Linked DNA regions of Homo sapiens. The protein of the gene in region 1 purifies or fractionates together with the protein of each later gene. This does not show direct contact. Each region holds a gene or a part of one and is shown in the gene's direction. Other genes may lie near its edges. The genes, in order: EIF2B3, ABCF1, SCARA3, TMEM192, NELFB, SSTR2 and SCCPDH.

The links.
Region 2: the proteins of EIF2B3 (region 1) and ABCF1 fractionate together in Homo sapiens (co-fractionation; one large-scale study listed by BioGRID). This does not show direct contact.
Region 3: the proteins of EIF2B3 (region 1) and SCARA3 purify together in Homo sapiens (co-immunoprecipitation; one large-scale study listed by IntAct). This does not show direct contact.
Region 4: the proteins of EIF2B3 (region 1) and TMEM192 purify together in Homo sapiens (co-immunoprecipitation; one large-scale study listed by IntAct). This does not show direct contact.
Region 5: the proteins of EIF2B3 (region 1) and NELFB fractionate together in Homo sapiens (co-fractionation; one large-scale study listed by BioGRID). This does not show direct contact.
Region 6: the proteins of EIF2B3 (region 1) and SSTR2 purify together in Homo sapiens (co-immunoprecipitation; one large-scale study listed by IntAct). This does not show direct contact.
Region 7: the proteins of EIF2B3 (region 1) and SCCPDH purify together in Homo sapiens (co-immunoprecipitation; one large-scale study listed by IntAct). This does not show direct contact.

The regions. Positions count from the first base shown.
Region 1 is NC_000001.11:44,874,522-44,879,078, reverse strand, and holds part of EIF2B3 (translation initiation factor eIF2B subunit gamma), read left to right. Parts: intron 1-3,383; coding exon 3,384-3,461; intron 3,462-4,252; coding exon 4,253-4,401; coding exon of another isoform or gene 4,402-4,438; exon of another isoform or gene 4,439-4,552; intron 4,553-4,557. UniProt on the Homo sapiens protein: Acts as a component of the translation initiation factor 2B (eIF2B) complex, which catalyzes the exchange of GDP for GTP on the eukaryotic initiation factor 2 (eIF2) complex gamma subunit.
Region 2 is NC_000006.12:30,577,210-30,581,766, forward strand, and holds part of ABCF1 (ATP-binding cassette sub-family F member 1), read left to right. Parts: intron 1-199; coding exon 200-246; intron 247-608; coding exon 609-704; intron 705-866; coding exon 867-993; intron 994-1,138; coding exon 1,139-1,176; intron 1,177-1,260; coding exon 1,261-1,368; intron 1,369-2,721; coding exon 2,722-2,796; intron 2,797-3,196; coding exon 3,197-3,310; intron 3,311-4,557. UniProt on the Homo sapiens protein: Isoform 2 is required for efficient Cap- and IRES-mediated mRNA translation initiation. Isoform 2 is not involved in the ribosome biogenesis.
Region 3 is NC_000008.11:27,639,975-27,644,531, forward strand, and holds part of SCARA3 (scavenger receptor class A member 3), read left to right. Parts: intron 1-4,557. UniProt on the Homo sapiens protein: Seems to protect cells by scavenging oxidative molecules or harmful products of oxidation.
Region 4 is NC_000004.12:165,069,459-165,072,892, reverse strand, and holds the end of TMEM192 (transmembrane protein 192), read left to right. Parts: 3' UTR 1-2,285; downstream 2,286-3,434.
Region 5 is NC_000009.12:137,268,151-137,272,707, forward strand, and holds part of NELFB (negative elongation factor B), read left to right. Parts: intron 1-3,930; coding exon 3,931-4,072; intron 4,073-4,356; coding exon 4,357-4,465; intron 4,466-4,557. UniProt on the Homo sapiens protein: Essential component of the NELF complex, a complex that negatively regulates the elongation of transcription by RNA polymerase II.
Region 6 is NC_000017.11:73,167,439-73,171,995, forward strand, and holds part of SSTR2 (somatostatin receptor type 2), read left to right. Parts: intron 1-1,789; 5' UTR 1,790-1,881; coding exon 1,882-2,991; 3' UTR 2,992-4,557.
Region 7 is NC_000001.11:246,730,571-246,734,468, forward strand, and holds part of SCCPDH (saccharopine dehydrogenase-like oxidoreductase), read left to right. Parts: intron 1-3,898.

The DNA.
Region 1 (4,557 bases):
GATGAGAATAAGAAAAGAGTCCGGGCACGGTGTCTTACGCCTATAATCCTAGCAATTTGGGAGGCCGAGGCAGGTGGATCGCTTGAGTCCAGGAGTTCGAGACCAGCCTGGGCAACATGGCAAAATCCTGTCTCTACAAAAATACTACAAAAATTAGCCAGGTATGGTGGCATGTGGCTGTAGTCCCAGTTACTTGGAAGGCTGAGGTGGGAGGATCACCTGAGCCTGGAATGCAGAGGTTGCAGTGAGCTGAGATTGCACCACCGCACTCCAGCCTAAGCCTAAGCAACAGAGTGAGACTCTGTATTAAAAAAAAAAAAAGAGGATAGGAAAAGATAAATAATTGAGGGAACTACATTGGGGTGGCATTCAAGGATAACAGAGGTGAGATAATGAAAAGATTAGTTATTGACATTGCTCCTGGTAGAACCCTGTGAAAATATAATTGCAGGTGTAGACCAGGGTGGCAGTGGAGCGCAGAATAATATAAAAGAAATTGTTGAAAATTGGGATTGAGGCCGGGCACAGTGGCTCACGCCTGTAATCCCAGCACTTTGGGAGGCTGAGACGGGTGGATCGCCTGAGGTCAGGAGTTCGAGACCAGGCTGGCCAACATGGTGAAACCCTGTCTCTACTAAAAATACAAAAATTAGCCAAGCATGGTGGCATGCACCTGTAATCCCAGCTTCTCAGGAGGCTGAGGCAGGAGAATTGCTTGAACCTGATAGGTGGAGGTTGCAGTAAGCTGAGATTGTGCCACTGCACTCCAGCCTGGGCAACAGAGTGAGACTCTGTCTCAAAAAAAAGAAAAAGAAAATTGGGATTGACTCCTGAAGAAAACCTGGCTCAGGAATCTGTAGGACCCACACCAGATAAAACCTCAGGTGAGCCTCAACCTGTATTGGTTACAGATCCAAGGGAGTCCCAAGCCAGAGAGCTTATGAGAAATCATAGCTAGTCCCACATTTACCCATGACTAGCATCTTTCACGCTGGTCTGGAAAGATGTTCATGGATAACCTGAGTGGGAAGACTTGTCCAGATCACAGGTGCACCGCTGTGTCCACATCATGAAAGAGGGACCCTGCTCTCGAGTGAGCATGCTGGGAAAAGTATCCTTTGAAGTGCCAACAGGGACTATGCAGCAGACGGGCCTGAAGGGCCTTGGGTGGAGTGTGGAAGAAGAGAACCTAGGGCTGGGGGCTTGGAATTAGCCTTCACATTCCAGTGTAGCCGTGCTGACAAGGCCTCCGTCAGCTAGTGTGGCTGCCACGCACAGTGCTCTGACCAGCATTCTGTCTATGCTGGAGAATCATAGACAGGCGCACTACCTGTGCCTTCCTAATAGACTGGTAGCCAAAGCCCCCCATACCTCTAACCTTTCCAGGTTTCTCACACTGGAGAGGGAATAGTGTGAACTTCCCCTTCATGTTTTCTTTTGGCTGGGGGATAGATGCCTTCTCAGGGTCTGTCCTTGATTTCGAATTTGTCTAAAATGGATCTCATCCTCACCTCATGCGTGGTCACAGTGGTCCAGGAGGTGACCAGGAACCCAGGATGCTTATGATCAGGATGCGGGGTGTTCCTTGACCTGATCAGGCCTCCTTTCCCAAGAGGTGGTATGTGGGTATCTCAAAGACTGGTCTCAGTGCCTCCCAGCCAAGGGACATGGCATTACTTTCAAGGAGGAGCATTCAAAGCTAAGAGACTGACAATAAGGCCATCTAGAAGCTGCTGCATAAATAATCTTGGTCCTAGGGGGAATGCAGCAGCCTCCTGCTCCCCCTCACTCAGACAGGAAGCTATGGCTGAGAACTCCCTGTATCTCTGATTGAGCACTGGGTTCTACCTAAGGTGTTTTTTTTTTTTTTTTTTTTTTTTTTTTTTATTGATCATTCTTGGGTGTTTCTCGCAGAGGGGGATTTGGCAGGGTCATAGGACAATAGTGGAGGGAATGTCAGCAGATAAACAAGTGAACAAAGGTCTCTGGTTTTCCTAGGCAGAGGACCCTGTGGCCTTCCGCAGCGTTTGTGTCCCTGGGTACTTAAGATCAGGGAGTGGTGATGACTCTTAACGAGCATGCTGCCTTCAAGCATCTGTTTAACAAAGCACATCTTGCACCGCCCTTAATCCATTTAACCCTGAGTGGACACAGCACATGTTTCAGAGAGCACAGGGTTGGGGGTAAGGTCGCAGATCAACAGGATCCCAAGGCAGAAGAATTTTTCTTAGTACAGAACAAAATGAAAAGTCTCCCATGTCTACTTCTCTCTACACAGACACAGCAACCATCCGATTTCTCAATCTTTTCCCCACCTTTCCCGCCTTTCTATTCCACAAAACCGCCATTGTCATCATGGCCCGTTCTCAATGAGCTGTTGGGTACACCTCCCAGAGGGGGTCGTGGCCGGGCAGAGGGGCTCCTCACTTCCCAGTAGGGGCGGCCAGGCAGAAGCGCCCCTCACCTCCCGGATGGGGCGGCTGGCCGGGTGGGGGGCTGACCCCCACCTCCCTCCCGGACGGGGTGGCTGCCGGGCGGAGACGCTCCTCACTTCCCAGACGGGGTGGCTGCCGGACGGAGGGGCTCCTCACTTCTCAGACGGGGCGGCTGCCAGGCAGAGGGTCTCCTCACTTCTCAGACGGGGCGGCCGGGCAGAGACGCTCCTCACCTCCCAGACAGGGTCGCGGCCAGGCAGAGGCGCTCCTCACATCCCAGACGGGGCGGCGGGGCAGAGGCGCTCCCCACATCCCAGACTATGGGCGGCCGGGCAGAGACGCTCCTCACTTCCTAGATGGGATGGCAGCGGGGAAGAGGTGCTCCTCACCTCCTAGATGGGATGGCGGCCAGGCAGAGACGCTCCTCACTTCCCAGACGGTGTGGCGGCCGGGCAGAGGCTGCAATCTCAGCTCTTTGGGAGGCCAAGGCAGGCGGCTGGGAGGTGGTTGTAGCTAGCCGAGATCACGCCACTGCACTCCAGCCTGGGCACCATTGAGCACTGAGTGAACCAGACTCCGTCTGCAATCCCGGCACCTCGGGAGGCCGAGGCTGGCGGATCACTCGCGGTTAGGAGCTGGAGACCAGCCCGGCCAACACAGCGAAACCCGTCTCCACCAAAAAAATACGAAAACCAGTCAGGCGTGGCGGCGCGCGCCTGCAATTGCAGGCAGTCGGCAGGCTGAGGCAGGAGAATCAGGCAGGGAGGTTGCAGTGAGCCGAGATGGCAGCAGTACAGTCCAGCTTTGGCTCGGCATCAGAGGGAGACCGTGGAAAGAGAGGGAGAGGGAGACCGTGGGGAGGGGGAGTGGGAGAGGTAGAGGGAGAGGGAGAGGGAGAGCTACCTAAGGTGTTTTCTGATCTTTAGTGACCAAATCTCTGTCCTTAAGGTGCCCAAATTGCTGTCTGCTCTCTGTCCAGAAGAACCACCAGTCCATTCGTCAGCCCAGATTGTCAGCAAACACCTGGTAAGTGCTAGTGTGGCCAGGACGGGCATGAGATGTTCTTTGGGAGCATCGAGACTTGTTTTTGAGAAGCCGGATTGAGGCCTTTAAGTCCTGAACCTCATCAGCCCCAGGGAAATCACAGTGGGTTCTGAGAATAAAATCTCACTCAACAAGACTGCCTGGGCAAGTAATGACCTTGTAAGGAAGGGTCCATTATAGTGTTGGGACTCAGACACAGGAGCTCTCAATCTCAGCCTGAAAGACTCTAGTCATGGGTAAATGTGGGACTACCTATGATTCTCATAAGCTCTCTGGCTTGGGACTCCCTTGGATCTGTAACCAATCCAGGTAGAGGCTCACCTGAGGTTTTATCTGGTATGGGTCCTACAGATTCCTGAGCCAAGTTTTCTTCAGGAGTCAGTCCCAATTTTCTTTTTCTTTTTTTTTGAGACAGAGTCTCACTCTGTTGCCCAGGCTGGAGTGCAGTGGCACAATCTGTCCCCCTTCTAACTCTGATTTGAGCACACTCTTTAAGAGAGCACATCTGTATACACAAGTGCATGAGTGTGTATATGTGTCTGTTGTTTTATTTTGTTTTCTTGGCAAGAGAGGAGGGCCCATGCTTCAAATAGGTTTGAGTTGGTCTCAGAGGTGTTGTATGACCTTGTGGCCCTGAGAAATACTGATCATGGTCCCTCTTGCTGAAGTGTCTCTATGGAAAGATCCCATTAGATCCCAGCTTGAGGGATCTGGAGGGTGGTTTGCAGTTGGTTGAGATGGGTGGACAGAGTTTTATATTTTGCCTTTTACAGGTTGGAGTTGACAGCCTCATTGGGCCAGAGACACAGATTGGAGAGAAGTCATCCATTAAGCGCTCAGTCATTGGCTCATCCTGTCTCATAAAAGATAGAGTGACTATTACCAATTGCCTTCTCATGAACTCAGTCACTGTGGAGGAAGGGTATGTTTCCCCCTGTACCCACTTGAGGCAAAGATAATGGAAAAATGCCTTCAAAATTCTGAAGGAAGGTTAATTTTAACCTAAAATTGTATACCCAGGCAAAGTGCTAATCAAGAGGGCAATAGAATAAAAACATTTTCAGATATCAAAAGTCTC
Region 2 (4,557 bases), on another chromosome or scaffold:
AGATACTTAGTGGATGAATGAATAGAGATGGGAATGATTATTTCTGCAGGAGTTGTGAGACAGTACAAATATTTAAGGAGTGATAGTTAAGCTAGAAAAATAATAAAATAGGATAGAGGCTACAGAGATCTTTGCAGGGGGGATCAGACTGCTTTGGAATTTGCAGATAAGCATTCACGATGTCCGCTTAACTTTCTAGACAAAGTGGTGAAGAAAGGGAAGAAGGACAAGAAGATCAAAAAAACGGTGAGAAAATGAGGGTTGAGGATAAGAAATGACTATGGATGTTTCCAAGCTAAATAAATAGCCATGTGAAGGAGGTGGGAGGTCCAAGGGAGGAGAAAAGATCTTGTCAAGAGAGGAGATAGGCAGGGCACGGTGGCTTACACCTGTAATCCCAGCGCTTAGGGAGGCAGAGGTGGGAGGATAGCTTAAGCCCAGGAATTTGAGACCTGCACACTCCATTCTCCACAAAAAGAAAAAAAAGAGAGAGACAGGAGGTAAGGTGAGGGTGGAGTGGAGGGCCAGTGGGCCAATGTGTGGCAGAGCACAGCCTGCTTGGATTGCTCTTGGAAACATGTTTACCTGTAGCTTAACTCCCTTTATAGTTCTTTGAAGAGCTGGCAGTAGAAGATAAACAGGCTGGGGAAGAAGAGAAAGTGCTCAAGGAGAAGGAGCAGCAGCAGCAGCAACAGCAACAGCAGGTACAAGTGCCACAGGGCCCACCAATCCTGGGAGGCATCTGGGTTCCACCAACCCCTTTCCAGCCCATGTTGCTCCATTCAGCTGATGGGGAACCCTCTGTGAGGCAGAAATACAGCAGGGGCCTGGGCTTCATTTTCTCACTGTTCTTTTGCTCTCAGCAGCAAAAAAAAAAGCGAGATACCCGAAAAGGCAGGCGGAAGAAGGATGTGGATGATGATGGAGAAGAGAAAGAGCTCATGGAGCGTCTTAAGAAGCTCTCAGTGCCAACCAGTGATGAGGAGGATGAAGGTAAATGACCTGAGGGGGAATGGGTACCTGGAATCCATGAGTCATGGAGAGTGATACCTCATACCCTGATCTTCAAGTTGGATTCAATTGGGGGGCCAGACATTGTAATTCTTTCCTATCTCATGTTCTCCCCCTGTCATTTCAGTACCCGCCCCAAAACCCCGCGGAGGGAAGAAAACCAAGGTAAGCCATCTGTGTGGTAAACGGAGACTCCAAGGATGCAACCTTGACCATCCTACTGACTTCTGTGGCCCTTTCATTCTCTAGGGTGGTAATGTTTTTGCAGCCCTGATTCAGGATCAGAGTGAGGAAGAGGAGGAGGAAGAAAAACATCCTCCTAAGCCTGCCAAGCCGGAGAAGAATCGGATCAATAAGGTGACAGTGGTGGCTCGATCAGTCACTCTCACTCCATTTAGCACCTTCTGGCCATGGTGGAGTAATTTCCCGCTTTTAAACTAGCTCTTCTCGGTCTGTCTTACTTATACTGTTAAAATCATCTTTTTAGAATACATGCCCAGGCTGGGCACAGTGGGTCACGCCTGTAATCCCAGCACTTTGGGAGGCCGAGGTGGGCGAATCACGAGGTCAAGAGATCGAGACCAGCCTGACCAACATGGCGAAACCTCATCTCTACTAAAAATACAAAAATTAGCCAGGCGTGGTGGCGTGCGCCTGTAATCCCAGCTACTTGGAAGGCTGAGGCAGGAGAATCACTTGAACTTGGGAGGTGGAATTTGCAGTGAGCTGAGATTGAGGCACTGCACTCCAGCCTGGGCAACAGAGCAAGACTCAGTCTCAAAAAAAAAACAACAAAAAAAACCATGCCATTTTTATCACTCAGAAATCTACAGTGATTCTGTTGCTTTAAGCACAGAACCTGAAACAAAGCCCCAGGTCCTTGCTCTTCTACTTGTGACTCTTCTGCGTGTGCATCTTAGTCCATGTCCATTTGAGCTCTTGAGAAAGCCTCCAGTGCTAGTGCCACTCACTCTGGTGGCGCACTTGCCTGACTTATAATCCTTAGCCTTGCTGACGTTCCCTAGTTATCTCTTCGCTATCTAGTCTGAAGCTGGAGGGTAGGGTTTTTCTGGGTCTCATTTTTCGTCAGCAGCACTCAATACAGATGGTCTCCAACTTCTGCTTCGGTGTACGATTTTTCTACTTTATGATGGTGTGAAAGTCATACTCATTTAGGGTACTCCTCAACTCATGATGGGATTATATCCAGATAAACCCATCATAAGTTGGAACTATTTTTTTTTTTTTTTTTTTTTGAGACGGAGTCTCACTCTGTTGCCAGGCTGGAGTGCAGTGGCGTAATCCTGGCTCACTGCAACCTCCGCCTCCCGGGTTCAAGTGATTCTCCTGCCTCAGCTTCCTGAGTAGCTGAGATTACAGGCACGTGCCACCACGCCCAGCTAATTTTTGTGTTTTTAGTAGAGACAGGGTTTCACCATGTTGACCAGGATGGTCTCGATCTCTTGACCTTGTGATCCACCTGCCTTGGCCTCCCAAAGTGCTGGGATTACAGGTGTGAGCCACCACGCCCGGCCAAGAACTATCATTTTTTATTTAAGTTTCTGGTGGGTTTATCGGGATGCAACCTGTCGTAAATGGAGGAGCATGTGTATGGTTAACACAGTAGACTCTCTAGAAATGCTTATTACACAGCAAAGTAGCACAATAATTTGTATGTATGTGTGTAATGTGTATGTGTGTCTCCTCCAGGCCGTATCTGAGGAACAGCAGCCTGCACTCAAGGGCAAAAAGGGAAAGGAAGAGAAGTCAAAAGGGAAGGCTAAGGTGAGAGAGTAACTAGCAGGAGGAGGTATTGGGGCCCAGGAATTAAAACATTTCATCAGGGCTGGGCGCGGTGGCTCACGCCTGTAATCCCAGCACTTTGGGAGGCCGAGGTGGGCGGATCACGAGGTCAGGAGATCGAGACCATCCTGGTAACACGGTAAAACCCCGTCTCTACTAAAAATACAAAAAAAATTAGCCGGGCGTGGTGGCGGGCGCCTGTAGTCCCAGCTACTCGGGAGGCTGAGGCAGGAGAATGGCGTGAACCCGGGAGGTGGAGCTTGCAGTGAGCCGAGATTGCGCCACTGCACTCCAGCCTGGGTGACAGAGCGAGACTCCGTCTCAAAAAAAAAAAAAGAAAAAAAAAAAAAACATTTCATCAGACCTGTCTTTTCCCTATTAGCCTCAAAATAAATTCGCTGCTCTGGACAATGAAGAGGAGGATAAAGAAGAAGAAATTATAAAGGAAAAGGAGCCTCCCAAACAAGGGAAGGAGAAGGCCAAGAAGGCAGAGCAGGTGTGTATTTGGTGTTGGGGCAAGGTGGAATGAGGGACTAGGGCTTCCAGGGTCCTTATGGGAGAGTTAGAATCTGGGGATATAGTTATTATCCCAGCAAACCTTTATTCTTTTCTTTTTTTGGGGGAGTAGTTGGGGTGGTGGTTCGTTTGTTTTTGTTTTTGTTTTTGTTTACACAGGATCTTACTCTGTCACTCAGGCTGGAGTGCAGTGGTGTGAACACGGCTCACTGAAGCCTCAACCTCCTGGGCTCAACAGATTCTCCTGCCTCAGCCTACTGAGTAGCTGGGACTACAAGTGTGCACCACTACCCCTGGCTAATTTTTTTATTTTTAGTATAGAGATGAGGTCTCACTATGTTGCTCAGGCTGGTCTTGAATTTCTGGGCTCAAGCAGTCCTCCTGCCTCAGCCTCCCAAAATGCTGGGTTTACAGGTGTGAGCCAGCATGCCAGCCAGCAAACTTTTTCTATAAAGGGCCATATAGTAAATGTTTTTGGCTTTGCAGGCCACATACAATCTCTATCACATATTCTTTTTTTTTTTTAACAACTCTTTGAAAATACAAAAATTATTTTTATAAAGTTCAGGAGCTATATAAAAATAAATGTCAGGTCAGCCTTGGCCCATGGGCTGTAGTTTGCAACACCTAATCCAGTGAAGAAAGGGCCTGGAATTTATCTCAGATGATCTGGGTCCTGGCTCTGCCTTCACTGGCTGTGTGACCTTGAATACATCTTCCCATCCCCTTGGGTCTCACTTGTCTCCTTTGTGTGATAGAAGGAGGAGTCCGGAGATCTCTAGGGTCCCTATGCGTCTGGCACTTCCTAATTCTGTGATTCTGCTGGATTCCTCTGACTGTGCACTAGAGCTTCCTGATCTTTTTTTTTTTTTTTTTTTTTTTGAGATGGAGTCTCACTCCGTTGCCCAGGCTGGAGTGCGGTGGCGCAATCTCAGCTCACTGCAACCTCTGCCTCCCGGGTTCAAGCAATTCTTCTGCCTCAGTCTCCCGAGTAGCTGGGACTACAGGCACGTGCCACCATGACCGGCTGATTTTTTGTGTTTTTAGTAGAGACAGGATTTCACCATGTTAGCCAGGATGGTCTTGATCTCCTGACCTTGTGATCTGTCCATCTTGGCCTCCCAAAGTGCTGGGATTACAGACATGAGCCACCGTGCCCGGACGGCTACCTGATCTTTTCTTTGCATGTTAACAAGGAAACCACAGAAACTCATTTTATACAAATGA
Region 3 (4,557 bases), on another chromosome or scaffold:
GGAGGCAGGGCCCAGCTCAAAGGATTTCAAGGCAGGGATGGCCCGTGCTCATTGGGAGGGGGAGGGACAGAAGAGGCATGGGGGGACTTGGGGACAGAGCGGTGGAATTGAGGGAGACTTGCTTTGAGAAGAAAGAATCTCTTTATCGGGAGGCAAGGGAAGGAGAAAAGATGGTTACAGACATAGACTCTGCATTACGAGCAGCTGCATTTAACCTTTTTATAACACATTTATTATTTTTTTAAAAATCAAAAAATTCCAAAAAGGAAAAACATTCACTCACGTGAACTCCTGCCCTGTAGAGATAATAAATGACAAAATGTAGATGAACATTCTTCAGAAATCATTCTGTGTATGTTTGCACAGATTTTTTTCATGTAGATAAGATTACACTATCCATGTTATTTTTATTTTTATTTTATTTTACTTTGAGACATAGTCTCACTCTGTGCCCAGGCTGGAGTGCAGTGGTACCATTGTAGGTTACTGCAGCCTTGACCTCCTGGGCTCAAGGATCCTCCCAGCCTCCCAAGTAGCTGGGACTATAAGCAGGTGCCACCATGCCCAGCTAATTTTTGTATTATTTGTAGAGATGAAGTCTCGCTATGTTGCCCAGGCTGGTCTCAAGCTCCCGACCTCAAGCAATCCTCCCTCCTCAGCCTCCCGATTACTTAGCGTTTTTGTTCTTAGTGCTGGTTTTTAGTTGTTGCTTTTGTTTTTGTTTGTTTGTTTCTTTGCTTGAGACAGAGTCTTGCTCTGTTGCCCAAGCTGGAGGGTAGTGGCACTATCATGGCTCACTGCAGCCTCAACCTCTTAGGCTCAAGCAATTGTCCTACCTCAGCCTCCCAAGTAACTGGGACTACAGATGCATGCCACCATGCCCAGCTAATTTTTGTATTTTTTGTAGAGATGAGGTTTCACCCTGTTCCCCAGGCTGATCTCAAACTCTTGGGCTCAAGTGATCCTCCTGCCTTAGCCTCCCAAAATGCTGGGATTACAGGCGTGAGCCACTGCACCCAGCTTGCAGTATTTTTAAAAAATGGTTTCATAACATCCCATAGTAAGACTCTACGAGCATTTATGTAACCAATCCCCTGGAGATGGGCATTTTAGCTATTTGCATTTTCCCTCAGATTTATCATAGCATGCAGTGATCACCTTTACACATACACCTTGGCCTAATTGTGTAATTATTCTCTTAACATGAAGTTCCTAGAAGGAGGATTACTGAGTCAAAGGGCACTCGCCCTTGCAGTATTGACAGAGGGTGCCAGGCTACTCAGAATGCACGAGAAGGCCTCTTTCCCCATCCCTCCCCCAGACTGGGTTTGAAGTGTAGGCATCTGGACAGAGTTAGTGGATGATAAAGAAAGAAGTTGGAACCTCATGGTCTTGATCCTTTCAGAAAAGGAGGGGGTGAGCTCATCTTTGGGGAATGAGGTGGGCTGACCTGAGGAGGAACCCAGGAATGGGAAGTGAGGATCCAGATGGCAGGACTTGGCTGAAGCCAAATGCATGCCCCCCTCTGACACTCTCCTGCAGCTCCAGGCTTCTCTAGTGCAATTCGAAGAAAGCAGGCTGAGGATGGAAGGGACCATGGCCAGGAGAGAGAACTACAGGCTCCATGGGGCAGAACTCAACCCTTGGGGACTGGGCTGGGCTTGGAGGTCAGGGCGAATGAGAACTTGGAGGAAGGAGAGCGAGGAAAGGCTGAGTGCATTGGGGATGAAGAAGGCAAGGGGCTTGAGATCAAGCAGATGGAACAGCAATAAGCCTTAAGCTCCAGAGGGCAGGCAGGATGTGTAGAGATGAGACAGTAAATCCCATGTCCAGAGCCCTGAGTTTCAACAGAAAAGCTGCTTCCATTCAAGTTGATGGCAGGAGACAGAATGAAGAATTCATCCAATCCAGGTGATGTCATTGTCCAGAACAGTGTTCCCTAAAGTCAGAGTCCCTCTGCCTCTGAACATAGGTCCCAGAATTAAAAGATACATTTATTTTTCAAGATCTGCAGGAAGTTCCATGACCAAATAAGTCTGAGAAACGTGGAGTTAAACACAGATTTAAATGGGCTTATTATTTTTTTTGGCAGGACTTTTCAAAATGCTTACTATGTGAATGTGAATCTCTAAGATGGCGATAGAGTATGCCATGTTTTCCACACTTACTTGATCAAATAATCCTTTTTCACAAAGAATAATTTGGGACTAGTGTCCCATAGGATATGTTTTGAAACACTGATTTCTTGTAAGTTGGAAATTGGTCCTGGGAGTGATGGGGGTTGGGAGATGGCAATAAATGGCAGCATTAATTGGAATAGGATAGAAAAATAATCCTAATAAAAGTGGCTGCTACTACTATTTATTAAGCATTTACGATGTACCAGGTACTTTTCATATACGTCTCATTGGATTTTCACAGCAGCTCATTGAAGCGGACGATCTCCCCACCATTTACGCATAAGGAACATGAAACTCAGAGGAGGGAAGTGGGGTGCCCATGCGAGACAGGGTAGGATTTGCAGGATCAGGGGTGACAACGGGGATCAAGAGAACTGGTGATTCCTGGCCAGGCATGGTGGCTCATGCCAGTAATCCCAGCACTTTGGGAGACCCAGGGAGGAGGATCACTTCAGGCCAGGAATTTGAGACCAGCCTGGGCAACATAGTGAGATCTTGTCTCTACAAAAAATAAGCAAGATTAGCTGGGTGTGATGGCACACACCTGTAGCCTCAGCTACTTAGGAGGCTGAGGTGGGAGGATCGTTTGAACCCGGGAGGTCTAGGCGGCACTGAGCCATGATCGCACCACAGCACTCCAGCCTGGCCAATAGAGCAAGACCTTGTCTATAAAAAGAAACAAAAAAAGAAAAGAAAAGAAAGCCAGTGATTCCCACCCCTCCCATCCCTCTGAATTCATGGGGTTCAGGGGAGTCGGGGGGGTTGGTGCTGTGGACAGAGAGGAGATCAGTGTGTAAGTAATGGGGGGAGTCTGTTGCATTGAGTGAGTAGCCTAGGTTCTTGTCTCAACTAGAGGCAGCACCAGCCTGCGAGCAGGTATTTAGAAATGGGTGGGCATTCGGGGTTGTCACAATGACCAGGGATTGCTATTGGCCTTTAGCGGGCAAGGCCAGGATGCTGAATGTCTGTGCAGAGTGGGCCGTGCTCATCTAATGAAGAATTGCACCACCTGGAATAGGGTCCAAGTTAGAAAAGTTGAGGGCAAGAAAGTTGTTTAGGATAAAGGGGATTTAGGATAAAGCAGGGATTTACCCACAACCTCTGTGGTTACCAAGAACAGGGTGGGAGGCAGCCAAAGGGATTCAGGTGGAGGTAGCAGGAACCGGGAGGGAAGCCTGTCTCAGAGCAGCAGATGTGGCTTTAGGGATGCAGGAGCTTGAGGATGGGGACCAAAAAAGGGGCGAGTGCTGGAGGAGAGAAACTGGCAGAGCCACGGAAGCAGAAAAGGACAACTTGTTGAGCAAGAAGATTTGAAGGGAAAGGACCTGTGTCTTGAGACCTGAGCGGGCAGGCGGATTCCCAACCGATTACAGACAAACCCACAAAGGAAGCCTGTGGAGAGGGGGTAGTGGCGGAAGGGCTCTAATGAAAACAATTTTGCAACCTTACTTATAGCGTTCTCCAACCTTAAACTAATAGCTATTCTGCACTTTAAATATAGCATTGGCTCCAGAGAAGACTCTGAAATCTTTATTTTTACCGATCCAATTGGCTGTTTTGAAAACCCACTCTGTGAACCCTGCAGAAGATAATTATCAAAATATGTTCCTTGAAGTGCCCAAAGAAAGACCTTTTATTCAGTTCCTCGAATCTCTCCCCCTTGTTGACTCAGATGGAAGAATGCAGTCCCAGAAAGGCGAAAGAGGGAACCAAGGACACATTTTTGGTCAACCAAAAGAAAGCCGGCATTGGTGACCACAGTTGAGTTAGCAGTTGGTTAACAGGTCCGGGCTATTTTCTACCCCCAAAGGGAGAGCTGAACCAAGCTCAACCCCAGTGGAGTCAGTGGCCGTGCTTAGCAATGTGCCAAGGCATGCACCCTCCATCAAACTTGCTACGTGGCTCTGTGAGAGCAGACTTAAAAAAAAAAAAGGAATTTCTCCTCTTGTGGCTGTCCTTTCTGGAGTTTGAGATGGATATTGTGACCTAAGGGATGACAGGAAGAGAGGCCCTTTCAAATTTCTAGTGGTCACCACTATTTTATGGGTCTGGGTTTGCAGCCTTGGCCTTGGCCTTGGCCTTCCCAGGCTATTTAACTTTTTTTTCTAAGCACCTTGCCTGCGATTTGGGTAGTAATCACTGCAAGAAGATTGGGGCCTGGCTGTGCCTTTCACTAGGAAATCCATGGGGCTGGCTTCTTTATGACAGGGACCATGGCCCTCCCTCATAGCAGCTGTGGTCCCTTGGGGCCTTGGGATCAGAGCAGGCAGAAACTGGCTCATGGAGTCTTAGATGTTCGTTCTTTCATGATTCCCATGCTGTCCCAAGTTTGTTCCCAGAGAGGAGTTTTCCCATAGGTTTTTAGGTCCCAGCATCA
Region 4 (3,434 bases), on another chromosome or scaffold:
GAATCTTCAGCCAGGCCTTCCTCCCTGAACTCCAGACTTATGTGTCCAACTGCCCCTTCTAGATCACTACTTGGGTATATAAAAAAACACCTCAAACAGAACATGTCCCCAGCTGAGCTATCTGCCACAGTCTCTTCCACCCCTGTAATGGCAGCTCCTCTTTCTCTCAAACCCTATAGACAGTTAATCAGCAAATCCTGCTGGCTTTTCCTTTAAAACATACCCAGAGTCCAACCAATTCTTGGCACCCCCAATGCTACTTCCCCAGCCACTATAATCTTCACCTGGACTATTATAATAGTCTTTCGGTTTTTTGGTTTTGTTTTTTTTTTTTGGGGGAGGGAGTCTCGCTCTGTTGCCCAGGCTGGAGTGCAGTGGCGCGATCTGGGCTCACTGCAACCTCCGCCTCCCAGGTTCAAGTGATTCTCTTGCTTCAGCCTCCTGAGTAGCTGGGATTACCGGCACATACCACCACACCCAGCTAATTTTTTTATATTTTTAGTAGAAAGGGGGTTTCACCATGTTAGCCAGGCTGGTCTTGAACTCCGGACCTCAGGTCATCCACCCGCCTTGGCCTCCCAAAGTGCTGCAATTACAGGCATGAGTCACTGTGCCTGGCCCTATTATAATAGTGTTTTTCTTTTTCTTTTTCTTTCTTTCTTTTTTCTTGAGATGGAGTCTCACTCGTGTCGCACAGGCTGGAGTGCAGTGGCGCAGTCTCGGCTCACTACAACCTCCGCTGCCCAGGTTCAAGCAATTCTCCTTCCTCAGCCTCCTGAGTAGCTGGGATTATAGGTGTGCTTTTTTTATTTTTAGTAGAGACGAGGTTTCACCATGCTGACTAGGCTGGTCTGGAACTCCTGACCTCATGATCCTCCCTCCTTGGCCTCCCAAAGTACTGGGATTACAGGCATGAGCCACCACACCTGGCCTATAAGAGTCTTTTAAGTGATCTTTCTGCTTCTCACTACCTCTCCACCCTGACCCCCCAGCCCCATGCACACACACAAAAAGCAGCCAACAATATCCTTCTAAAACACTACTCTGATGGTTCCCTTTTTCATTCAGTAAAAGCCAAAGCCTGGACAGTGGCCTTCAGGGACCTAGAAAATCTCCACTTCCCACCCCACCCCACCTCCTCTCTCCTACTCTTCCTTTGTGTACCCTGCGTCGGTCACACTGTGGCTTTTGGATTGCTAAGCACATTCTTACCTGAGGACCTTTGCGGTTGCTGTTCCCTCTGCCTGGAAGGATCAACTCCCATATATCTTTTTCAAGTCTTTGTTCAAATGTCACTTGTGGCCAGGTGTGGTGGCTAACCCCTGTAATCCCAGCACTTTGGGAGGCTGAGGTGGGTGGATCACTTGAGGTCAGGAGTTGGGAGACCGGCCTGGCCAACACGATGAAACCCTGTCTCTACTGAAAATACAAAAATTAGCCAGGCGTGGTGGCACGTGTCTGTAATCCCAGCTATTCAGGAGGCTGAGGCAGGAGAATCACTTGAACCTGGGAGGTGGAGGTTGCAGTGAGCCAAGATCGCACAGCTGTACTCCAGCCTGGGTGACAAGAGTGAGAATCCGTCCCCCCCCCAAAAAAAAAAAATCCTCCCACTTCAGTCAGCCTCCTGAGTAGCTGGGATTATAGATGTGCACCACACCACCACACGTAACTTTTATTATAGTATATTGCTATAATTATTCTATTTTGTTATTAATGTTGTTACTCTCTGTGCCTAATTTATAAATTTAACTTTATTGTAGTTATGTGTGGATAGGAAAAAATATAGTGTTCGTAGGGTTTAGTACTATCTGTGGCTCCAGGCATCACCTGAGGTCTTGCAATGATTCCCCTGCAGACCTGTGGCTCCAGGCATCACCTGAGGTCTTGTAATGTTTCCCCTGTAGATAAGGGGAAAATACTGCATGTAACTTACTTGTTTACTTTGTCTGTGTCTCCTGATAGAATGTAAGCTCTATCTTTTGCTTACTACTGTGTCCTTCATACATAGAACAGTGTCTGGCACAAAGTAGGCACTCAATATACGTTGATGAATTAATGTCACTAACTTCAGTGATTTCACTACTGGAATTGTAGTAGAAAAACTATGCTCACACATGCTCAAAGCCTGTTCCTGTAATCCAGCTGTAACCTGGGCTCTGTTTTCACTTTCTGTTTATGATGTCCTGAACTGAGAGATTATTTTTTTAAGGTCTTGTTTAAAAGTTTATGTCTAGGATACACTAAAAAATAACAACATATCAGAAATAAAAGAGATAAGACTGCTAGTTTTTATAATCACTGCTATTTACTATTGTCCAAAAGTGCCCATCAATACAGTTGGATAAAGGAGCAGGATTAATTTGTGCATGGGATGGTTATATATTAATATCTAGAAAATTTAAGAATTAACCATTAGACATCTAGAGAATTTAAGAAAAACCATTAGAAAGCAAGGGTGGCAGACTGTAAAACATGAAGATAACAATTTTCTTACATACCAAAAAGAACCAGTTTAAAATACAATTGGAAAGGTACCATTGCCGATTGCATATAAACATATATTCAGGAATATTTGTTAACCTTTTAGAGCTCTGCTCCTACTAATCCAGTCCCATATTAATAAATATTTAAGACATTTCTGTTATTATATAGGAACTAGATGTTCAGATAGAAATTTCAAATTGGGGCGGGGCATGGTGGCTCACGTCTGTAATCCCAGCAATTTGGGAGGCCACTGCTGGAGAATCTCTTGAGCCTAGGAGTTGGAGACCAGCCTCCTGTTGAAAAGACCCTCTCTCTGTTGAAAAAAAAAATTTTTTTTTTTTGAGACGGAGTCTCACTCTGTCGCCCAGGCTGGAGTACGGTGGCGCAAACTCTGCTTACTGTAATCTCTGCCTCCCAGGTTCAAGCGATTCTCCTGCCTTAGCCTCCCTAGTGGCTGGGATTACAGGTGCCTGCCACCACGCCCAGCTAATTTTTGTATTTTTAGTAGAGACGGGGTTTCACCAGGTTGGCCAGGCTGGTCTGGAACTCCTGTTAAAGTGCTGAGATTACAGGCGTGAGCCACCACACCCAGCCCACATTTGTAATTTAAATGAATAAGATAAAAATAACCTATTAGAAAACACATGGCCATGGCCGGGCGCGGTGGCTCACGCCTGGAATCCCAGCACTTTGGGAGGACGAGGTGGGTGGATCGCGAGCTCAGATGATCGAGACCATCCTGGCTAACATGGTGAAACCCCGCCTCTACTAAAAATACAAAACATTAGCTGCGCATGGTGGCGGGCGCCTGTAGTCCCAGCAACTCGGGAGGCTGAGGCAGGAGAATGGCGTGAACCCGGGAGGCGGAGCTTGCAGTGAGCTGAGATTGTGCCACTTGCACTCCAGCCTGGGTGACAGAGCAAGACTCCGTCTCAAAAAAAAAAAAAAAA
Region 5 (4,557 bases), on another chromosome or scaffold:
GATGGGGCCTCTTTAGCCTTGCGGTACCCACTGTGACACAGACCCTGGGCTCTTCCTTGCTGACTCAGGCCTTGTCTGGGGTTTGCTGTCTTAGTCCACGTTATGCTGCTCTAACAGAGACTTGAGACTGAGTAGTGTAGAAAGGGCAGGGACGGCCGGGCACGGTGGCTCAGGCCTGTAATCCCAGTGCTTTGGGAGGCTGAGGCGGGCGGATCACGAGGTCAGGAGTTCGAGACCAGTCTGGCCAACATGGTGAAACCCTGTCTCTACTAAAAAAATACAAAAATTGGTTGGGCATGGTGGTGGGTGCCTGTAATCTCAGCTACTTGGGAGGCTGAAGCAGGAGAATCCCTTGAACCTGGGAGGTGGAGGTTGCAGTGAGTGGAGATTGCACTATTGCACTCCAGCCCAGGCGACAGAGCGAGACTCCGTCTCAAAAAAACAAAGAGCAGGGACTTCTCCCAGTTCTGCGGGCTGGGATGGGAAGTCCGAGGTCAAGGGGCCTGCATCTGGCTGGGGCTTTTTGCTGTGTCATCCCATGGTGGAAGGCAGAGGGCAAGAGAGCACGGGCAGGGGAGACAGACAGACACAGACAGAGATGAGAGACAGAGACACACAGACCAAGATGAGAGACAAAGATGAGAGACACAGAGACAGAGATGAGACACAGAGAGATGAGAGACAGGTAAGAGAGACAGAGACAGGAGAGACATGGAGACAGACAGATGAGAGACACAGGACAGAGACAGATGAGAGACAGAGCTAGAGATGAGACACAGACAGACGGAGACAGAGAAGGGGCCACACTTACCCTTTTATCAGGAGCCACTCCTGTGCTAACAGCGAGAACGCTTTGGTGAGGACGGAGCCCTCACGACCTCAGCAGTGTTGCGTTGGGGATCAGGTTTCCGATGGTGAACTTGGGGACACGTCCACACCACAGCACGTGCCTATTGTGTTTCTCGGTGGCTGGTGTGTTTGAGGATGGCGCGTGCATGCGTTTTCCAGCTTTCTTTGTGGAGGAAGTTACCTGTGGGTATTAACCTGTCCCCAGCCATCCTCTCACTGAGCTTGGGTTGCCTGGGCCTGGGTTTCCTGTTGTTGCTGGAACGAATGACCACAGACAGTGGCATTAGACAGCGCAGGCAGACATGACCTCCTGGGCTTCTGCGGGTGCCAACACTGCCGCTCCTTCTGGAGGCTCAGGGAGGCTCTTGAGGGCATTGGGACATCGTGCTGCCGGCCGCCGGGCAGAGCCGGTTTGTTTATTTTTTGAGACTTCCGGGAACATAGTTATAAATAACTTTAATTTGCCTTGGCCTGCCCACTGCAGTACAGTCACGTGTCACATAACATTCTGTCTACCGTGGACCACATATACGACCACGCGGTCACATAAGCTGACAATACTGTATTTTTACTCCACTTTCTCTATTTAGATACACAGTTGCCATTGTGTCCCAGCAGCCTTCAGTACTCAGTACAGCCATGTGCTGTGCAGGTGTCTAGCTCAGGGGCATGAGGCCATGGCCCAGCCCAGTGTGCAGTGGGTGGCACCTTCTGGATTTGTGTCAGTCACTGTGGAGTTCGCACAATGACAGACTCACCTGGGAGGCCTTCCGTGCGCTTCTGTTTCTTTCTCTCATTTGATTGTGGCTAGAAACAGGCTGGGAACCAGGAGTGCAGCTTCTCGGAGTACGTGGCTGCCCCACGGGGTGGGATGTGCATTTTCAGTCACATTTGGGGAGAGCACGCGTGTTCTTAAGTTTTTAGCGGGTTCTAGTAAGAATGGATGTTGATTTTTAGAATTCTCTCCTGTTTATTTTTTAACATTTTGTGGTGGGAATTTGTGAAAGAATACGAAGTCAAGAGCATGGTACGGTGAGGACCCAGCACCATCTCCAACCTCCCCGGGGTCCACGTGGGGTCTGCGTGTGGCCGCCTGTCCCTCAGCACGATGTCTGGGTGTAAATCTGAGACATCACAGCATGCAGGCTGCAGACGTAGGCATCTCTACAAAAGAAGGATGCGTTTACAGGAGAATCGCTTGAACCTGGGAGGCAGAGGTTGCAGTGAATCGAGATCACGGCACTGCCCTCCAGCCTGGGCGACAAAGCCAGACTCCGTCTCAAAAAAAAAAAAAAAAAAAAGGGCGGGGAGCCGGGCTTGGTGGCTCATGCCTGTAATCCTAGCACTTTGGGAGGCCAAGGCGGGTGGATCACCTGAGGTCAGGAGTTCCAGACCAGCCTGGCCAACATGGTGGAATCCCATCTCTATTAAAAATACAGAAATTAGCCGCGTGTGTGACGCATGCCTGTAGTCCCAGCTACTCGGGAGGGTGAGGCAGGAGAATCGCTTGAACCCAGGAGGCAGAGGTTGCAGTGAGCCGAGATTGCACCACTGCACTCCAGCCTGGGTGACAGAGCGAGACTCCGTCTCAAAAAAAACAAATAAAAAATAAGACTGTCTTTAAATGCCTTTAAAAAACTGGCCAGGCATGGTGGCTCACCTTGTAATCCCAGCGCTTTGGGAGGCCGAGGCGGGCGGATCACCTGAGGTCAGGAGTTCCAGACCAGCCTGGCCAATGTGGCGAAACCCCATCTCTACTAAAAATAGAAAAATTAGCCCGGCGCGGTGGCGCACGCGTGTAATCCCAGCTGAGGGAGGCTGAGGCAGAAGGATCGCTTGAACCCGGGAGGTGGAGGTTGCAGTGAGCTGAGATTGCACCGCTGCACTCCAGCCTGGCTAACAGAGTGAGACTCTTCTCAAAAAAAATAAAAACCAGTGACCACGGACCACGGGCCACTGTCACATCTGAGCCAGGTTCACTGCCGCTCCTCTGCCGACTGACTGCCTGACAGTGGCTGCGCTTCTCCAGGTGTCTCCTGCCTGCTGTGTGGACGGTCCCGTCAGGGTTGGGATGCGCCTGCTGTCCCCTCTCCTGTCTCGCAGTCTTGGGTTCCCCGGAGTTGCAGGAATCAGGGCATTTGCCCAGTGGGGCCTTGCTGCTGGATCCCCTGGTCGGGACTGTGTGCCTGCCACGTGTCCCGTGGCCACCTGGCCATGTGGCCGGCCAAGGCCCTGTGAGATGTGGCAGGCAGGCACCTCGGGGGCCTGGGTCTCCTGGAAATGTTTCTGTCACTCTGGGCGCAGGTGGCGCCAGCTGGGTTGTCCTCATAAAGGCCCCATCCGGGATACTAGGAAGGCCATCCTCAACCTGTCCGCACACGTCACCTCCATGTGGCCTGGCCACAGCTCCTTCAGGCATCAGTCTGCAGGCGGCCGCCCTCCCTCCCTGCAGGGGCCCCGTTTGGGGCGTTGTGCTGGCTCTTGGCAAATGTCTGCCAACACCGTGGCTTCTGTGCTGTGGTCGCACGTGAGGCGTCTGTGGGCACGAATGCTGTCTTTGTTGTGTTTTGGTGTCTGGCTTCAGAAAAGAATGTGGAAGAGTTTCGTTCTCTTTCCTGTGGTTCAGTGTAGCTGGCAGTCAGGGAGAACTCTCTGCAGCTGGCGCCGGCCCTGTATTTGTTAGGCTTGTTTCTCCTGGGCTCGGCTGCTGGGCAAGGCCTTTTGGGACTGGAGGAGCACCTCGTTTTTCTGTCTCCTTCTTCCTCCACCCTCCTCCTGTCCCCGGGCTGTCTCCCCCTCCCTCCACCCTCCTCCTGTCCCTGGGCTGTCTCCCCCTCCCTCCACCCTCCTGTCCCTGGGCTGCAGCTCTGCTTCCCTGCCACAGGTCCCACCCCCTGCCTGCCTCTGTCCACTTCCCACCCCCCTCTTCACCTGCTGAGACCCTGTGCTTCTCATCTCAGAACAACTGAGAACTCTCATGTGAGCACCCCCAGAAGTAGGTTCTGAGGTCTTTGAGGACAAGGGTGCCCTCTGGGGTGGGCAGGGTGAGTGGCACTGGGCTGATGCCTGCTGTGTCTGCAGTGGAGACCTTTGGCGACTTGGCCTTTGGCGACATCTTCCTCCACCTGCTCACGGGCAACCTTGCGCTGCTGGCCGACGAATTTGCCCTTGAGGACTTCTGCAGCAGCCTCTTCGATGGCTTCTTCCTCACCGCCTCTCCAAGGTAGGCCTGCTGGGTACCATCCGGCCCGCTCTGTCCTCTCAGCTCTTGTCCGTAGCAGCCTGAGAGGTGGCTGCTGTCCCCAGCCTGGGGCGGAGGGTCCGCAGGTGGGTCTGTTGGGCACCAGGGCTCGCATGTGGCCCTGCAGGGTGCCTGGGCACAGCTGGGGAGGGTCCCAAAGGCTGGCCATGTCCTGTCTCCAGGGGCCTTGGCCACCTGCATCTGGGCTGGGCCTGGGCAGACAGCAGGGCCTGCCTCCTGCCCCAGCCCTGCACGGCCTTTTCCAGGAAGGAGAACGTGCACCGGCACGCGCTGCGGCTCCTCATTCACCTGCACCCCAGGGTGGCCCCGTCTAAGCTGGAGGCGTTGCAGAAGGCCCTGGAGCCTACAGGCCAGGTGGGTGCCCGGGGGGGCTGCATCTGAAGGCACCTGGTCCCTACCAGCCCGTGTGTGCTTGCCAAGCTGCCCTTGTGGTGCTTGTGTGTGGT
Region 6 (4,557 bases), on another chromosome or scaffold:
ATCTGCAGTCTTTCCAAGGATTAAGAAGTAATCTTCCATCTACACCCAGGCACCAGGAAAAGGACCTAGCTCAGGGGAAATGTGTCAGCCAAGTGAATTAGTCCCACTCTGCTGAACACACCACCCTTTGAACATCTCGCCTCTTCCTAGATTGGCCTCTTTGCTGTCCTCCTGCTTCACTCTTCATATACCCAAGACCCAGCTCAAACACTTCTCTTTGGAAGCCTCCTCTGAGTCCCCCAGGAAAGGAAGGCATTCTTAAGTCCTTCATTTATCTCTCGTGCAATGCCCACCCTATATGAGCTGGCTTCCTTTCCTATCTCCCCTTTTAAATTATCACCTCCTAGAGGGCACTGGCCAAGTTTGTTCATTTCTACATCCCTGCTGTCAGCACAAAGAAGCCTCCTCTCCAGGCCCCCAACCCCCGTGATATTTTTTGAATGGCTGTATATCAATCATTTAATTATGGGATGAACTATTGTTTTAGATCTTAAGCCAAGCCAATAGTGCTCCAATTATTTTCTCAGCAAGGAAGTAACACAGGAGTCAGTTGCTTCAAACCAAAGCCCAGTTATCAGCCGTTCGGTCTCTAGGCCACTGAGGAGCAGAGGGGATGCCTTGAGACGTGCAAAAGACTTGGGGCCAGGTGGCCTGTGTTCACATCCCAGCTCCACCAATTATGTGCAAGAGAATGGGGTGAGCTCCTTAAACTCTCTTAAGCCTCAGTTTCCACATCTCTAAAATGGGGGTAATTATCCCTACCACCTAGGACAGTTGGGGAGATCAAGGGACTCGTGAGTGTGAATGAATTATATCAGTACTGGAAGCCTTCTGCTTACTTCTGTGAAAGAGCTTGTGTCCCACACCTGCTTCCCGTTTTTGTCCGTAATTAGAAAATGGCAGGCAAATTCTCTGGAGTGTTACAGCACTTGGGAGCAGCATCCCCTTAGGGACTTTGGGAAAGAGCTCTTGAGGAAGTCAAGCATTAGGTATTGGAAAACAAAAATAGAAGAAAAACAAAAAATAAACTGAAGCCTACATTTCAAAAATGAAAGCAAACCAGACTTTTATTTTTAATACTGAAGACTATAAATTGTTTCACCACGTAGGTAGATTTCAATAAATCAGAGATAATGAGATGGTAGAGGAAAACATGGGGGGAAACAACTTACGAGGTTCCCATTATGAGCCCAACGCAAGGCTAGGCATTTTCACATATATTCCATCATTTAACCTTCATGACGCCCCCATGTGAAGAAATAAGAGTCAGAACCATTAAGGACCAGGCATGTGGTCACACGGGCTCAGCAGTGGAACCCGGTTTGTTCTGCCTCTAGAGTCTGGGTTTTTTCCACTATGGCATTTTCAGAATGGAAAGACTCCAAGGCAGTCAGCAAGTCAGCATAGATTTCCTGGTAGGGAAGAGGCCAGGAATGTCAGTGTCAGACCCTTCTGAGGTCAGGCGCTGAACTTCTCCAAGCTCTGCCTTTCTGCAGTTTAGATCAGTCAACTTCTTAGGGGTCAAAGTATGTGCTTTTTGAAGCCACAGCCCTCCCCGACATGTGCGTCAGCAGATGATGGCTGAACCCAAACCCTTCCCTACTATTGGAAAAACAACTCAAAAAGTCTGCACACTGATGAGGAACTCTAGAGCTTAATGTTGATGTGGAAAGATAATACATTTTTCAATTTAAGAGTATGTCTGAGAGGCTAAACCAGAAATGTGTAAATTTGGTGAGACTTTAAACAGCCTGTGACCGACGGGCCAATCTTCCTCTTTTCCTTCCAGATGTCACACTGGATCCTTGGCCTCCAGGGTCCATTAAGGTGAGAATAAGATCTCTGGGCTGGCTGGAACTAGCCTAAGACTGAAAAGCAGCCATGGACATGGCGGATGAGCCACTCAATGGAAGCCACACATGGCTATCCATTCCATTTGACCTCAATGGCTCTGTGGTGTCAACCAACACCTCAAACCAGACAGAGCCGTACTATGACCTGACAAGCAATGCAGTCCTCACATTCATCTATTTTGTGGTCTGCATCATTGGGTTGTGTGGCAACACACTTGTCATTTATGTCATCCTCCGCTATGCCAAGATGAAGACCATCACCAACATTTACATCCTCAACCTGGCCATCGCAGATGAGCTCTTCATGCTGGGTCTGCCTTTCTTGGCTATGCAGGTGGCTCTGGTCCACTGGCCCTTTGGCAAGGCCATTTGCCGGGTGGTCATGACTGTGGATGGCATCAATCAGTTCACCAGCATCTTCTGCCTGACAGTCATGAGCATCGACCGATACCTGGCTGTGGTCCACCCCATCAAGTCGGCCAAGTGGAGGAGACCCCGGACGGCCAAGATGATCACCATGGCTGTGTGGGGAGTCTCTCTGCTGGTCATCTTGCCCATCATGATATATGCTGGGCTCCGGAGCAACCAGTGGGGGAGAAGCAGCTGCACCATCAACTGGCCAGGTGAATCTGGGGCTTGGTACACAGGGTTCATCATCTACACTTTCATTCTGGGGTTCCTGGTACCCCTCACCATCATCTGTCTTTGCTACCTGTTCATTATCATCAAGGTGAAGTCCTCTGGAATCCGAGTGGGCTCCTCTAAGAGGAAGAAGTCTGAGAAGAAGGTCACCCGAATGGTGTCCATCGTGGTGGCTGTCTTCATCTTCTGCTGGCTTCCCTTCTACATATTCAACGTTTCTTCCGTCTCCATGGCCATCAGCCCCACCCCAGCCCTTAAAGGCATGTTTGACTTTGTGGTGGTCCTCACCTATGCTAACAGCTGTGCCAACCCTATCCTATATGCCTTCTTGTCTGACAACTTCAAGAAGAGCTTCCAGAATGTCCTCTGCTTGGTCAAGGTGAGCGGCACAGATGATGGGGAGCGGAGTGACAGTAAGCAGGACAAATCCCGGCTGAATGAGACCACGGAGACCCAGAGGACCCTCCTCAATGGAGACCTCCAAACCAGTATCTGAACTGCTTGGGGGGTGGGAAAGAACCAAGCCATGCTCTGTCTACTGGCAATGGGCTCCCTACCCACACTGGCTTCCTGCCTCCCACCCCTCACACCTGGCTTCTAGAATAGAGGATTGCTCAGCATGAGTCCAATTCAGAGAACGGTGTTTGAGTCAGCTTGTCTGATTGAATGATAATGTGCTAAATTGATTACCTCCCCCTTAAAGCGAACACTGAAATGCAGGTAGACAATTCAAAGTCTGGAGAAGAGGGATCATGCCTGGATATGATCTTTAGAAACAACAAAAATAGAAAAAAATAAGTATCTGTGTGTTTGTGTATTGAAAACTCAATATGTAATCTTGTGTTTTTATATGTATACTTGTATATTCCTATTTATTCTCTGTATAGGCATTACCTACGTTCCTGTGTTTACATACACAAGTAGCAAATTCGAGTATGCATAGTGTAGATGGACATTTGCCACAACACACTGCCCGCAGAAATGGACTTACCGTGAAGCCAATAAAGTTCAAGCTTCAGGGATCTCTCTTGCACGGGCCTTGCCAAGGCCCAGGAGGGACTTGGGCAGTATGTTCATGTGGTCATATGTTTTTGTAAAAAATTGTGAAAGTAAGATATGTTTGTATTGTTTTTCTTAAAGAGGAACCTCGTATAAGCTTCAAGCCTCACAAACCTTCTAGCCTCTGCCCTTGGGGATTTGCTTCATTAATTTCAGGCAAGTGAGGTCAATGTAAGAAGGGAAAGGGAGAAGATATTTGAAGAACCAGAATGTAAATTCATGTGTTTCCACTTCTCAGATATAGTCAGAGAATTATTCATTTGCCCAAAAGGACTTAAGTGGTTGTGGTCATCCATCATTGTATTTATCAAGACAAAGCCAACTTTGTTATAAGATTGCATTTTTTTCTTTTCAAATTGCTTTAGTTTTTCTTAGGGAGCTATGAGGGGGAAAAATCACTAACATGAAAGGCAAAAAATGGACTATGATTCCTGTGGGGAAACAATTTCATTCTCTCCATCGTGAAAATAAGTGAATAAGAGTGAAGCAAAATTACACCTTTATGAGAAACCATAAAATTGTTTTTATTTTTCAGGCCAGACATAGCTTCCTAATGAAAGAAAATGGAAATGTAATTCGACGACTCCTCAAAGGGGACTTTAGAGGACTTCATACAAAGCTGGGCATTAAGAAAACCACAATGCATGGCCGGGCGTGGTGGCTTACACCTGTAATCCCAGCACTTTGGGAGGCCGAGGTGGGTGGATCACCCGAGGTCAGGAGTTCGAGACCAGCCTGGCCAACATGGTGAAACCCCATCACTACTAAAAATATGTAAATTAGTCGGGCGTGGTGTCACGTGCCTGTAATCCTAGCTGCTCGGGAGGCTGAGGCAGGAGAATCACTTGAACTTGGGAGGTGGAGGTTGCAGTAAGCTGAGATTGTGCCACTGCACTCTAGCCTGAGCAACAAGAGCAAAACTCAGTCTCAAAAAAAAAAAAAAAAAAAAAAAAAAAAAAAAAAAAGGAAAACCACAATGCGTACTAAAGACCAGAAGACATTG
Region 7 (3,898 bases), about 200 Mb from region 1:
GTCTTCAACACATGACCACTTAACATGGCCCAGGGAATGTCTCGTAGTCAGTCCATATAGTAACCGTTAACGGAACGTCATGTTTTTGTAAACATTAACATGGATAAAAGTTCTGATATTTACTTCCACCCTCAGTGGATCATTCTGCGCTTCCCTTAGGGGAAGACTACTTGGGAGACCACTGGGTTAGAAGATGGAACTTTGAGGGCCAGGCGCGGTGGGTCATGCCTGGAATCCCAAACCTCTGGGAGGCTGAGGTGGGCAGATCACTTGAGGTCGGGAGTTTGAGACCAGCCTGGCCAACATGGTGAAACCCTGTCTCTACTAAAAATACAAAAAATTAGCTGGGCATGGTGGTACACACTTGTAATTGCAGCTACTCGGGAGGCTGACGCAAGAGAATCACTTGAATCCGGGAGGCGGAGGTTACAGTGAGCTGAGATTGCGCCATTGTATTCAAGCCTGGGCAGCAAGAATGAAACTCCAGCTCAAAAAGAAAAAAGAAGAAGATGAGACATGGAGAGCAGGATTGCGGTTCTGACCTTTGAGCCAATTGGCCTCACAGGGGAGAAGTGTCTCCCCGAGATGAAGGATTGCTACTCTGACTGTTCACCTGTCTCAGACAAGCACAGGGTACTAAGTGGAGAAAAATCTAGCAAGTTCATAAAATAGGAATAAGTTAGTGAGAAGTCTCAACTCCAGATTACTCAAAGAAGTGGGCCAGATGTGACAAAATGCAGTAAAAGTAAGGAATGGGCAGACTGGCAAATAGGAAAATGCGTTTTCTTTCCAGAAGGAGCTACGATTATTTTAATAAGCTCATTAATACTTCACTGCAGCCTGCCAGTACTCATAGATACACTGCCTAGCTGATGGGCTCACTAGCCAGACATGAGAAGTGAGCCTGTGGCTGTAAGGCAGAGCCTGGAGGAGCTGGGAGTTGGCCCAGCAGAATGAAGGGAGGGTGCTCCAGGTAGTGGAAGCAAGCACACTGGGTGTGAAGAAGCAGCATGCTTGGGGAATTACATGGAATTTAGAACTGCTGGAACATGAGAATTAAGGGGCTGTGGTATGATATGATACTAAGGACTTTCTGTGACATGCTAAGAAATTTGGACTTTGTACTATATACTGTAGGGATTTTTTTGTTTTTGTTATTTTTATTTAAGTTCTAGGGTACATGTGCACAACATGCAGGCTCGTTACATAGGTATACATGTGCCATGCTGGCCTGCTGCACCCATCAACCCGTCATTTACATTAGGTATTTCTCTCAATGCTATCCCTACCCCTGCCCCCCACCCCACGACAGGCCCCAGTGTATGATGTTCCCCACCCTGTGTCCAAGTGTTCTCATTGTTCAGTTCCCACCTGTGAGTGAGATCATGCGGTATTTGGTTTTCTGTCCTTGTGATAGTTTGCTCAGAATGATGGTTTCCAGCTTCATCCATGTCCCTGCAAAGGACATGAACTCATCCTTTTTTATGCCTGTATAGTATTCCATGGTGTATATGTGCCACGTTTTCTTAATCCAGTCTATCAGATTTGAAGAGTGGATATGTTATAGGAGTGAGGCAGGAGGAAAGGTGACATCACATTTTTATTTTAGAATAACAATTTGTTATGTATTTGGAGATGGGGCTAGCTGGCTGCAGTATAACCAGTTAGGGCCTATTTATAGTAAATTAGATGAGTGTTGACAGGGTCTGAACTAAGATATAATTGTGCAGGGGAGAGGAGACTGATTTGAGATAATTTTAGGAAACTGAATTGATAAAACTTGGTGACTTCCAGGATAGGTAGCATGAAAGACTGCTTCCAGATTTTTTTTTTTTTGAGGCGGTTCTTGCTCTGTCACCCAGGCGGAAATGCAGTGGTGCGATCTAGGCTCACTGCAACCTCCACCTCCCGGGTTCAAGCAATTCTCCTGTCTCAGCCTCCTGAGTAGCTGGAACTACAGGCTCATGCCGCCACACCTAGCTAATTTTTATATTTTTAGTCGAGACAGGGTTTTACCAAATTGGTCAGGCTAGTCTTGAACTCCTGACCTCAGGTGATCCACCTGCCTCGGCCTCCCAAAGTGCTGGGATTACAGGCATGAGCCACCACACCCAGCCTGCTTCCAGGTTTTAACCTGAGAATTATGTGGGGAGTAATGCCATTAAATAAAAAAAAGAAGCCATCTGAGTACCATGTGCCTGGCCCCACACTAAGCTCTTTGTATTCTCTTATTTCATCCTCACAACTACCCAGGGAAGTGAGTGTTGTTATTCATCACCATTCTTTGATTGAAGAGGTTGATGCTTAGAGAGGTAAAGTGACTTGCCCAGGGTCACACAGCTAGTGGCTGCAGAGCCTGGATGTAAGTGTGGCCTGACTTAAAGCCCACACTCTAGACCACTCTGCTGTTCAGCCATTTGCTCAGTTTTGTCTCAGAGTCTTCCCTCTTTTGAGCACAACAGAAAGATGTTAGAAGTGGGACCCAGGCAGGCTGAACTAGAGGCTATACTTTGTTTTTTATTTTTATTTTTTTGAGATGGGGGTCTCACTTTGTTGCCCAGGCTGGAGTAGAGTGGCACGAACACAGCTCACTGCTGCCTCAACCTCCTGGGCTCAAGGGATCTTCCAGCCTCAGCCCTGAAAGTAGCTGGGACTATAGACTGGTGCTATCACATCTGGCTAATTTTTGTATTTTTTGTAGAGACAGGGTTTTGCCCTGTTGCCCAGGCTGGTCTCTAGCTCTTGAGCTCAAGTGATTCACTCACCTTGGCCTCCCAAAGTGTTGGGATTACAGACGTGAGCCACTGTGCCTGGCCATGTGTTTATATATATATGCCATATATATATAGTCCTTATATGTATAATATATATATATAATAAGTATATGGCCTCTATATATAGTCCGTAGCATCATATTTTATACACACACACACACACACACACTTTTTTTCTTAGAGAAATGGGGTCTCAAAGCGATCCTTCTGCCTCAGCCTCCCAAAGTGCTGAGATTACAGGTTTGAGCCACCACACCTGGCCTAGAGGCTACACATTGAAGCACGTGCTAGGAAGTGGAGGAGGAGAAATAGGTTTAGAGAGAGAGATGATGAATTCGGTTTTAGACTTGTTGAAATTGAGGTGTCTGCTAGATACCTTGCATCAAGACAGAAAATACAAATAATATACTGTTTGTATATGATGTTTTATAAGTAAGTGAGAAAATCAGGGGGAAGAGAAAATAAAAGGAAAATGTAGGCAAAGTGAAATTAGTTTTATGTGTGACTCATGCTACATGTCCTGTGCTCTCACTGGTCCTGACCTTTCTAACAAAAAACAGAGGGAAATCCTATCAGTGAGCAACTCTAGACATAGAGGTTGGAGGTCACAGCACAGATTTTATTGAAGTTGGGAGAGTAGGTGAGATTTCCTGGGAGAATGTCTGGGGCAGTGATTCTCCATCTTTGAAGTACACAAGAATCACCTGTGAGGCTTATTTACAATGCAAGTTACTGGAGTCTACCTCAGAAAGCCTGATTCTGGGGGTCTGGAGTGGGAGTGAGTGACCAGCATGCAACCCAGGTGATTCTAAAGCAGGTGGACTCATGGCCAACTTGAGAAATTTGGGGGTGAAATAACTTAAGAACAAGGCCGAGAAAGCTCCAAATGAGTTTTAAAATGGATGTGTGCAAACCCTAAGGATCAACCAGGATAATCCACTGGGTGCAGAAAGCATATGGAGCTTCAACTTCTGTTTTAATCTCAACTTTAGTTCTATTTAAATATGTTTAAAATGTGTGTTTTATTCATTTGGTAGGCAATTTAAGTGATTTATAAGTAAATTCATATAGTTAGTAGGTGATGGATTCCAGGTGTGAACTTGGGTCTTACTGCCTTGAAATCC